Linked DNA regions of Homo sapiens: region 2 is linked to region 1. The links come from fine-mapping of genetic effects on plasma protein levels. A gene starts in region 1. The other region holds a variant in brackets. All regions are shown on one strand. Distances are between the middles of the regions.

What was found. PIP is the chance, under the fine-mapping model, that this variant and not a neighbour inherited with it causes the effect. Protein levels are from antibody-based Olink assays in UK Biobank. Linkage for the fine-mapping came from a reference panel and not from the study's own genotypes, which makes the PIPs less certain.
Region 2: its variant is fine-mapped to the plasma level of the MANF protein (UK Biobank, PIP above 0.99).

The regions. Positions count from the first base shown.
Region 1 is chr3:51,382,067-51,387,439 of GRCh38, forward strand. MANF (mesencephalic astrocyte derived neurotrophic factor) reads left to right here and starts at 3,225. Exons shown (of 4, transcript NM_006010.6): 1 at 3,225-3,370; 2 at 4,142-4,269. The coding sequence starts at 3,277. It overlaps DOCK3 (dedicator of cytokinesis 3), which reads left to right. Exons shown (of 53, transcript NM_004947.5): 53 at 1-2,132. RefSeq lists an enhancer at 2,641-2,990 and a silencer at 3,051-3,420.
Region 2 is chr3:51,480,221-51,485,593 of GRCh38, forward strand. It overlaps DCAF1 (DDB1 and CUL4 associated factor 1), which reads right to left. Exons shown (of 25, transcript NM_001387579.1): 3 at 3,499-3,616. The coding sequence starts at 3,608. Among named protein-coding and RNA genes, the nearest start is that of DCAF1, 17 kb to the right of the region's middle. The variant G/T (reference allele first, on the strand shown) is at 3,071.

The DNA.
Region 1 (5,373 bases):
CCACAAGCCGTTTTGCACAAATGCCTGCCCACCTGCCCCTCTTCCATCCAGGAGTGTGCTACTGAGGGGCTGGCTGGACCAACCTGCTGGCTCAGGCATGTGACTGGCCTAACTGCATGCCCAGGGCACTGCCAGGGTTCAATGGGCCAGCCGTCTCCTACTCCACCTTGGATTTTTCTCTCCATCACATCATTTCTGACCATTTGCTCCCTTCCATTCTTGAAACACCTCATGCCCCACAGGAGCCCCAGTGGTGACTGGATCTGCAAGGGTTATCTCCCGCCCTCTGGGGTTTGAGTGGAGGTATGGAGCCAGAGAGGCTATCCTAGCTACCTTCCTCCTAGGGGGAGCTGGTCCCCTTCCTATGTGGTAGAGAGACTGGTGTAAGAGTGTGGGGTGTGGCAGGCGCCGGAAATCCTCAAAGCTTTCAGAAGCATCCAGAATGCCTACCATCAGCTCCTGAATCAGGGATTTTCAGCACTACCTCTGAGCCATGGGGTTGGCTGCCCAGCCAGGCTTCCAGGCCCTGAGGACATGTGGTCAGGTTCAGCAGGCTCCTGGGTAAAGAGGGTGGGAGGGGGCTTCTCCTTTTGGAAGCAGATAGCCATGCAGGTAGAATTGTCATCTCCCAAGTGGCCACATACAGCAACCCACTCCAGGCCATGGGGACCACCACTCAGGGTTCGGGGCTGGCAGGAGGGTAGTTTCTCCAGTCTCCCCAGTCTGTTGGTGTCTTTATAGGAAACTATAAAGCAGAGCAGTGGTGTCTTTAGAGGAAACTCATTCAAGTCAGGGCACTGATTTTCCTCTCAGTTTATTATTTGGGGGGATAGGGTCAGGTGGGTATAGTAGTACTTTACCAGGGTGCTTTTAAGTTACTTTAAAAAAAGCCTACAAAATATTTTTTTTCTTTTATTTGCTCGAGTTCACATTAATGATGGTCACAAGGCTGCCTTGTTGGGCAGGCGTATTGCCCCCAGTTCCTCTTCTGCTGGCCTGTATGACCTCCACAGCCAGGCCCTGGGCCCAAGCCCCTTGTCCCTTCTCCACTGCCCCTCTTTCCAGACAGTAAAGGCCATGGTCAGTGTGTTTTTCTCTTGTAAACAAACCCCAGCTTGTTTAACAGAAATGCTAATAACCTACTGGGAAAGATGGAGGTCTAAATTACCTCCAGGGTTTTTCTGGGGGTTTATCACCAGTGTGGGTCCCTTCTGATACCACCAGGTTCACTCCAGGCAGAGTGGGGCGGAAGGCTGCTGAGGATATGGGTCAGTTACAGCAGCCCTCACCTCAAAGGGCTGGCCTGCTTCTCAGCCTACATTCATTTGCAAGCTTCAATCTCTGGACCATCTGGTGTTCACAGGTGTTAGAGGGTTAGGGGTTAGGGGCTAGTTTTGGATTTGATTCATAGGTAGGAGGGCTTAGATTTTAAGGCACTTCTGAAAGTCAATCCCTGGACAAGGCAGTCATCACATAAGAACAGCTACCTTCTCCACTTGGTGGCACAAGAGGTAGGGAGGGGAGTATGGGTTCATTTGGCTTCGCATTATGCAAGGTGAAACCGTTTGTTTTCCCTCTCCATTTTCCCTAACTAAATGAAAAGGACACATTCTGAAATCCCTTTTGTTGGAGAATAAGTCAGTCTGAGGGGAAATGGGAGGCCAGAGATGAGAACCCTTTGAAAAGATTGTAAAATACTGATTTTCATTCTTTCAAGCTTATTTGTAAATACCTATTTGAATGCTGTGTATTTGTACAGGAATTTGAGCAAAAAATGTATAGAGTGTGATGTCCAATTGGTATTCAGCACTATAAATGTGTTTTTAACCTCCCGCATTCTGTGCTTATTTAAAACAAGGAAACTTCTAACCATTTCTTTTGTGTATTCATGTTTAAAGAAAAAAAGTGATTTAAAAATGATCTTACCTGTACCAGAAAAGCAAAGTTAAAGGAAACAAAATTTGTACCATTGTCCCAAGAGGTATTTTACTGTATATATTGTGGTAGCATGTTCAAAATCCAACAAGTAATGTGAATTTTAGATGTAAATATCTGCCACTTGATTTTTTTTCCCCCTTTCCCCACTTCCTTGACTGCTGTGATGTGAATTAAAGATAAATACGTGATACTGATCCACTGAATTCACTGAATGGGAGCAGAGGATGTGCCCCTCTCCAACCCTTGTCGCCGGGCTCCAAGCCCTTTTTAGCCCTATAGACATGTCCTTTTTGCACTGAGTAGAGCCAACGGTTCCCGCATCCTGCCTTGAAGGCAGGCAGCCAGGAGGGCACTTGAAAGGAGGGCAGTCGAAAAGGAAACATCCTCCAGTGCTTCTCTGGTGATTCCCGGGACCCCACTCAGGAGGTCCCACGGCAGCGGGGGACCCCGAGGGCCTAGCCGGGGAGGCAGGAGGAGGCTGGCCAGCCACCAAGCCACGATTCAGAGCTTGTAAGGGCACCTCCCGAGCCCCTCACCTTCCCACTCTGAGGCGACCCCATGTCCTCGACCGATGATCTGGCCCGGGCGCTTCCCTCCACGGTCTAGAGTGGCGGCCCAGCTTTGAGCTTGGCGCGCCTTGAGCCCTTCCTTCAGATGTCCCGCAGTCCGTCCACCCCGCACGTCTCCTATCAGCCTATGCACGGCGGGCTCCGGTCAGGTGGAGGATCAGCAGGTGGGCTTTCAAAGGTTGGATCCGTTGCCCACGCGAATGAAAGAAGAAAAAAGAAACCTCTTTGAGCCTTGCCTGCGGCCGCCCGCCCTTCCTGCCTAACCTGTTGTCTTGGCTGACCCCAGAACTCCTGCACCACGAGTCGGAGTCCGGGCGAGGAGATCAGCAGGGGTTTTCGAGGGAGCCTGGGGCCCAGGGCAGGGGTACGCGGGTCAACTCAACAGATGTAAGGCGTGGCCGAACCCCATTCAGCTAGCAGTACCCAGCCTCAGCCACAGTCGCTGCCCTTACCCAAGATGGCGGCCCACACCGCTTCCGTCGCTGCTGTAGTCGCTTCCTGCGGCCAGCCCGGGTTCAATCAGCGGCCGACAACTGTCTAGGGCTCAGACACCACCAGCCAATGAGGGAGGGCAGCGTGGAGCCGCCCGTCTGGGCTCGCGGCTCCTGGACCAATGGGGAAGTGGCATGTGGGAGGGCGCCGGGGGGCCCCCCGCCAATGGGGAGCTACGGCGCGCGGCCGGGACTTGGAGGCGGTGCGGCGCGGCGGGTGCGGTTCAGTCGGTCGGCGGCGGCAGCGGAGGAGGAGGAGGAGGAGGAGGATGAGGAGGATGAGGAGGATGTGGGCCACGCAGGGGCTGGCGGTGGCGCTGGCTCTGAGCGTGCTGCCGGGCAGCCGGGCGCTGCGGCCGGGCGACTGCGAAGGTGCGGGATAGGGGGCCGGGGGCCGCGCTCCGTGACCGTTCTGGCGGCGGCGCTGAACCCCACAACATCACCAGACGGCCGGGGCCAAGAGGGCGAGGGCGGGGGCGGGGGCGGGGGCGACAGCAGGTCCCCGCGGGGCCTGCATGAGGAGGCTCCGGCGCCCGCCCTAGTAAATCTTTCTTGGGCCTAGAAAACATTGGTCCGACGAAGAAAAGTTGAGACTAGATCCCGTTGAAAACTTGTCCTGAAATCTCCATCACTCCTGAGTTATTGTCCCCACCACCATCTAGAGGTTACCGCTCCCCGTTCGGCGTCGGGAGCTCCAGGGCTGGCCGTGGGTGCTGCGCCCTGTCTGTTGGGATCACGAAGCTGCACCTCTGGGTCCGCTGTTGTATTTGGAAATTAGCAGCAGCATTTTGATCATTTTTCTCTTCACCTTCCAGTCTCTCCATTTATGAGGTCACAGTGAGTCCCGTCTCAAGGACACGTGTTCACCATGGGCTTAAACTTGATGAAAGGAGCAGGGAGAAGTCGTTTATAGGTCATTGGGTGATGCTTGGTCCTTTGATGCCCTGGGTGTACCAGGGGACCCCCGCCACTTGGAACCGGGTTCTGTCTACCTGTAGACACCTGAGAAAAATCGGTGATGGAAAAGCTCACCTCTAATGATTCATCTCCGTGTCTCCTATTAAAATTGCTGGCGGAGTTCTTTTCTGGTGGATTGGAACAGCTTGGTGATTGCTGAGCATCTCCCGTCCCTCTCTTTTCCAGTTTGTATTTCTTATCTGGGAAGATTTTACCAGGACCTCAAAGACAGAGATGTCACATTCTCACCAGCCACTATTGAAAACGAACTTATAAAGTTCTGCCGGGAAGCAAGAGGCAAAGAGAATCGGTTGGTAAGTAGCTGGTGATCCTCCCCAACTGGCCCTGGCTCATGTTAACCCTCGGCTTCACCAGCCGTTTGATAAAAGGCCTTGCCCACCTCTCTGTTCAGGAAGCCAGCTACTCTCTCCATAAACTAATGTGAGAAGACTGAAGTGCTTCTATGTCCTTCCCAAAGCAGCATGTGTTCTGCAACTGTGATTTTTTTTTATCCTGTTAGTCTTTATTAAGCACCTACTATGTGCTAGGCACTGGGAATATCAGGGGAAAGAAGTGACAGTCGGACACACAAATAATGCAATGTCTGGGTGTCATGAAGAAAATGGACCAGCAGGTGCTGATTTAGAGTGGCCAAGAAGTCTCTGAGGAAGGGTTATCATTGAAGTGGGGTAAGACCATCCCATACAGGGAACAGCAGTGTGAGTGCCCAGAGGCCTGAAAGAGTGTGGCATGTATGTGGACAGGAGAAGGTGACAGGGTGCCTACAGGATAGGCAAGGGCCGAATCCAAGACAAAAGCCCTAGTGAAGCAATGGGTTTTCTAACTTGAATTTCTCTGACAGTCTCTGGCTTTTCTCTCTGTTAAAGGTTTGAACCCTGGTGACACTTAAATTCATTTGGTGGCTGTCAGCTTGGACTGAGCATGTGTTAAGAGTCCAGGGTTTACACTGGCTGAATCTGACTACCAGTACAGGCAGGGCACCGAAAAATGCCGCTGTGGGCCAGGTGCGGTGGCTCATGCCTGTCTTCCTAGCACTTTGGGAGGCCAAGGTGGGAGGATTGCTTGAACTTAGGAGTTTGAGATCAGCCTGGGCAAAGTGGTGAAATCCTGTCTGCACAAAAAAATTTTTAGGCTAGGCGTGGTGGCTCACACCTGTAATCTCAGCACTTTGGGAGACCGAGGTGGGTGGATCACCTGAGGTCAGGAGTTCAAGACCAGCCTGGCCAACATGGCAAAACTCTATCTCTACTAAAAAATACAAAAATTAGCCAGGCATGGTGACAGGCGCCTGTAATCCCAGCTGCTCAGGAGGCTGAGGCAGGGAGAATTGCTTGAACCTGGGAGGCGGAGGTTGCAGTGAGCCGAGCCAAGATTGCGCCACTGCACTCCAGCCTGGG
Region 2 (5,373 bases), 98 kb after region 1:
TAGGCCTGCCATGCAGACATGCCAAGGAAAGGCATTTCAGGCCAAAGAAATACCAAGTGTAAAGGCACAAAGACATTAAAAAATACGTTAATCCAGCCGGGCAGGGTGGCTCATGCTTGTAATCCCAGCACTTTGGGAGGCTGAGGTGGGCGGATCATGAGGTCAGGAGTTCGAGACCAGCCTGGCCAACACAGTGAAACCCCATCTCTACTAAAAATTCAAAAATAAGCTGGGCGTGCGTGGTGGTGGGCGCCTGTAATCCCAGCTACTCGGGAGGCTGAGGCAGGAGAATTGCTTGAAGCCAGGAGGCGGAGGTTGCAGTGAGCCAAGATTGTGCCACTGCACTCCAGCCTGGGCGACAGAGCTAGAGTCTGCCTCAAAAAAAAAAAAAAAAAAAAAGTTAATACTTACAGAAAGAGACTAATACTATGAGGGAGAAAAAAGAGGCCATCCTCCTTTTTCTCATCCTGTGGGGCTACTTATGATGTGATGCCATTTACAGTGGGCTGGGATTACAGGTGTGAGGCACCAAACCCAGCACCCCTTGATTTGTTTTAATACTCCTATCATTCATGTGTATGTATTTTAATTTTCTGCCATTATACCACACTATACTAGAACCGTTTTTTTTACACGTGTTTCCTCACTAAATTGTAAAATTCTTGAAAGCACATACTATGTCTTTTTATTGGTGTCTCCTCAAATGATGATCTACCCACTGCCTGGTACTTAATAACTGTGTGGTACATAATTTTATTGAAAAAATCTGTTAAGGTAGAAAGAGTGAAAAGTAAAGGCTGGGTAGAGGTGCTCATGGGTTTTCTAAGGAGAAGGTCACTGGAACGTGGGAATCCTCAACATCCCATCCCCAATATCATAGCTGTGAAAACAACTTTTTATGCATTGATTTCTTACTTTTTACAGCGAAAGAACTACAATATTATGAAAGTAAGCCACATCATAAATGGCCACATAGGCCACACTAAAAACTTTACATTTTACTCTGTAGGAAAAAGGAAGTCGGAGAAGAATGTAGGTATGAATGAAGGTAGGAAAATCCTATTTGTGTATGAGAAAAAGGAATCTTTCAGCAAGGGGGAGGATGTATTAAAAGAGGGTAAACTGGAGGGTAAACTTATAAGGCACACTGCTTAATGGGCCAGTCAAGACATGAGCAATACCTAATGCAGGCCAGGCGCAATGGCTCACTCCTGTAATCCCAGCACTTTGGGAGGCCGAGGTGGGTGGATCACCTGAGGTCAGGAGTTCAAGACCAGCCTGGCCAACATGGCAAAACCCTATCTCTACTAAAAAAAACAGAAAAATTAGCCGAGCATGGTGGCTTATGCCTGTAATCCCAGCTACTCCAGAGGCTCAGGCAGGAGAATCACTTGAACCTAGGAGGTGGGGGTTGCAGTGAGCCAAGATCGCACCACTGCCTGGGGCAGAGAGCAAGACTCCGTCTCAAAAAAAATGAAAGGTAAAATATGCCGGGCACAGTGGCTCACGCCTGTAATCCCAGCACTTTGAGAGGCCGAGGCAGTCAGGTCACTTGAGGTCAGGAGTTCGAGAACAGCCTGGCCAACATGGCAAAACCCCACCTCTACTAAAAATACAAAAATTAGCCAGCGTCGTGGCGGGCACCTGTAATCCCAGCTACTCAGGAGGCTGAGGCAGGGAGAATTGCTTGAACCTGGCAGGTGGAGGTTGTGGTGAGCCAAGATCATGCCAATGCACTCCAGCCTAGGCAACAGAGTGAGACTCCATCCCCCCAAAAAATAAAAACAAAAAAAGTTTTTCAGTTTAAAACCATTCAGTTTAAAACCAAGGTAGGGAATAAAAAAAGCATTAAGTTATGAATAAATGAGGAGACACACAGAAATGAGGATGATAAGCTCAATTTTGGACATGGTCTGTTTCAGGTATCTGTAGAAGAGCCAAGTAGGCCAGCACTGTGGCTTCGCCTGTAATCCCAGCACTTTGGGAGGCCGAGACAGGAGGATTGCTTGAGCCCAGATGTTCAAGACCAGACTGGGTAACACAGGGAGACCCTCCCTCTACAAAAAATTTAAAAATTAGTCAGGTGTGGTGGTGCACACCTGTGGTCTCATCTAGTAGGGAGGCTGAGGTAAGAAGATGGCTTGAGTCCAGGAGATCAAGGCTGCAGTGAGCTGAGATCATGCCACTACAGCCTGGTGACAGAGTGAGACCCTGTCTCCAAAAAAACAGAGCCAGAAGAGCCAGGTAAAGATATATTCACCAGGACGGGCGCAGTGGCTCACACCTGTAATCCCAGCACTTTGGGAGGCCAAGGCAGGTGAATCACCTGAGCTCAGGAGTTCAAGACCAGGCTGGCCAACATGGTGAAACCCCGTCTCTACTAAAAATACAAAAATTAGCCGGGTGTGGTGGCGTGCACCTGTAATCCCAGCTACTCGGGAGGCTGAGGCAGAAGAATAACTTGAACCCGGGAGGCGGAGGTTGCAGTGAGCCGAGATCGTGCCATTGCACTCCAGCCCAGGAGACAGTGCAACACTCCATCTCAAAAAAAAAAAAAAAAAAAAAGATACATTCACCAAACAGTTGGGAAATGAGTCTAATTTTTTTTATTTTTATTTTTTTAATTTAAAAATATGCTGGGCATGGTGGCTCACACCTGTAATCCCAGCACTTTGGGAGGCCAAGGCAGGTGGATCACCTGAGCTCAGGAGCTCAAGACCAGCCTGACCAACATGGTGAAACCCCGTCTCTACTAAAAAGATACAAAAATTAGCTGGGCGTGGTGACAAACGCCTGTAATCCCAGCTACTCAGGAGGCTGAAGCAGGAGAATTGCTTGAACCCAGGAGGCGGAGGTTACAGTAAGCTGAGATCACGCCATTGCACTCTAGCCTGGGCAACAAGAGCAAAACTCCGTATGAAAAAAAAAAAAAAAGCCAGGCTCAGTGGCTCACGCCTGTAATCCTAGCACTTTGGGAGGAGGCCAAGGCGGGTGTATCACCTAAGGTAAGGAGTTCGAGACCAGCCTGATCAACATGGTGAAACCCCGTCTCTACTAAAAAATATAAAAA[G/T]TAGCCGGGCATGGTGGTGGGAGCCTGTAATCCCAGCTACTTGGGAGGCTGAGGCAGGAGAACCCCTTGAACCCAGGAGACGGAGGTTGCAGTGAGCCGAGATCACACCATTGTACTCCAGCCTGGGCAACAAAGCAAAACTCTGACTCAAAAAAAAAAAATTAAATTAAATTAAATAAGAAAATTAAACAGCTTCAGGAAGTAGGGAGATAAAGACTAAATCTGAGGAAAGAAAAAAATTGATTTAGAATTTACAGTCTAGGTGAAAATGTTCCTATGCTATTCTCCACACCAATTTTTGCTTCTTTTTAAACTAGTTTGTGTGTGTGTGTGTGTGTGTGTGTGTGTGTGTGTGTATGAAGAAATCTAGCGTATGAGTTGTGTCCGAGGTTTTTTATTAAACTAGGTTTTAAAAAAGTTATTCATACCTGGTAAGGATAGGTACCATGTCCTGCCCACTGCCATGTTCCTTTTCCCACTGCTCCAGCAGGGTAGTGAGCTCAGCTTTGGAGTCCACATGTACCACTACTGTAGTCATGGCTTTGCCTAAGGAAGCAAAAATAAAAATAAAAAAGACAACCAATAAATGAACACAAGCAAATAAAAGTGAAGAAGGGGTAGAAAAGGACGAGAAGGCAAGAGAAAAAATTAAAAAGGGAAATTTAACCCCTTGAACCCTTTGGATTTATTTGTGGTACAGCAGAAAACTCGGGATACTCATCAAGCCTAGATACCCATTCAGTAGTGATGAACAAGTACTTTCGCCTTTCTCAGCCTCAGCTTCAACTGTCAAATGAGGCAAGAAGCTGGATCAAAACAGTGATTCTTAACCTTTTGAGGAGTCCCTTTGAAAATGAGACAAAAAATATGGTACCTTTCCCTCATCAAAAATGCATTTACCACCAGGCATGGTGGCTCACACCTGTAATCCCAGCACTTTGGGAGGCTGGGGCAGGTGGATCACCTGAGGTCAGGAGTTCGGGACCAGCCTGGCCAACATGATGAAACCCTGTCTCTACTAAAAATACAAAAATTATCTGGACATGGTGGCAGGTGACTGTAATCCCAGCTACTTGGGAGGCTGAGGCAGGAGAATCACTTGAACCTGGGAGGTAGAGGTTGCAGTGAGCCGAGATCACACCATTGCACTCCAGCTTGGGCGACAGAGCAAGACTCCGTCTCAAAAAGAAAAAAAAATAGATTTACCTAATGCCTACCTGTAATATATACAATAATCCCAGGCCTAGATCTCTGAGGTCTAAAACTTTGTGCTTACATTTTTTTAAGCACAAAATGTGGCCAAAACTACTCCCAAAATATTTTGCTCGTTAGTCCTTTGAGGGAAGTTCTATCAAAGATAAACAGCATGGCACACTCCTGTTTAATTTTTTCTTTTTTTTTTTTTTTTTTGAGATGGAGTCTCACTCTGTCACCCAGGCTGGAGTGCAATGGCACAATCTCGGCTCACTGAAACCTCCACCTCTCGGGTTCAAGCAATTCTCCTGCCTCAGCCTCCCGAGTAGCTGGAATTACAGGCGCCCGCCACCATGCCTGGCTAATTTTTGTACATTTAGTAGAGACGCAGTTTCACCACGCTGGCCAGGCTAGTCTCAAACTCCGTTTTTTGTTTTGTTTTTTTTTTGAGACAGAGTTTCACTCTTACTGCCCAGGCTGGAGTGCAATGGCACAATCTCGGCTCACTGCAACCTCTGCCTCCCGGGTTCAAGCAATTCTCCTGCCTCAGCCTCCCAAGTAGCTAGGATTACAGGCATGCACCACCACGCCCAGCTAATTTTTGTATTTTAGTAGAAACAGGGTTTCACCATGTTGGTCAGGCTGATCTCGAACTCCTGACCTCAGGTGATCCACCCGCCTCAGCCTCCCAAAGTGCTGGGATTACAGGCGTGACCCACCGCGCCCAGCTCTGTTAATTCTTAAAGAGAAGGCCAAGAAATGAAATGGACACTACTGCCAGCATGAAAGTGGAGAAGGAACACTATAAAACTCATTTATCCTTCAAGCTTCCTAACCTCTCTCACAGCTGATTTCCTGGAAAGAAGAGGCTAGAAGAGAGGCAGAGAAGGTTGGCTGGGTTGAGTGGTTCAAACTAGGAATGCAGAAGGGCAGGGAGCTGAGGTGAGCTTTGGAGGACCAAATAAGACACCCACATATGAGAGGCTTATAAGGGGATCCAAAAGGGATAAATGAGACGCAAATGTTTGACAGGTTATGGCATCAACTTCTTTATAAAAGTAGCCTTAAAATCAAAATGTCATATTCTGCCACGCAAAATGCGTATCTTC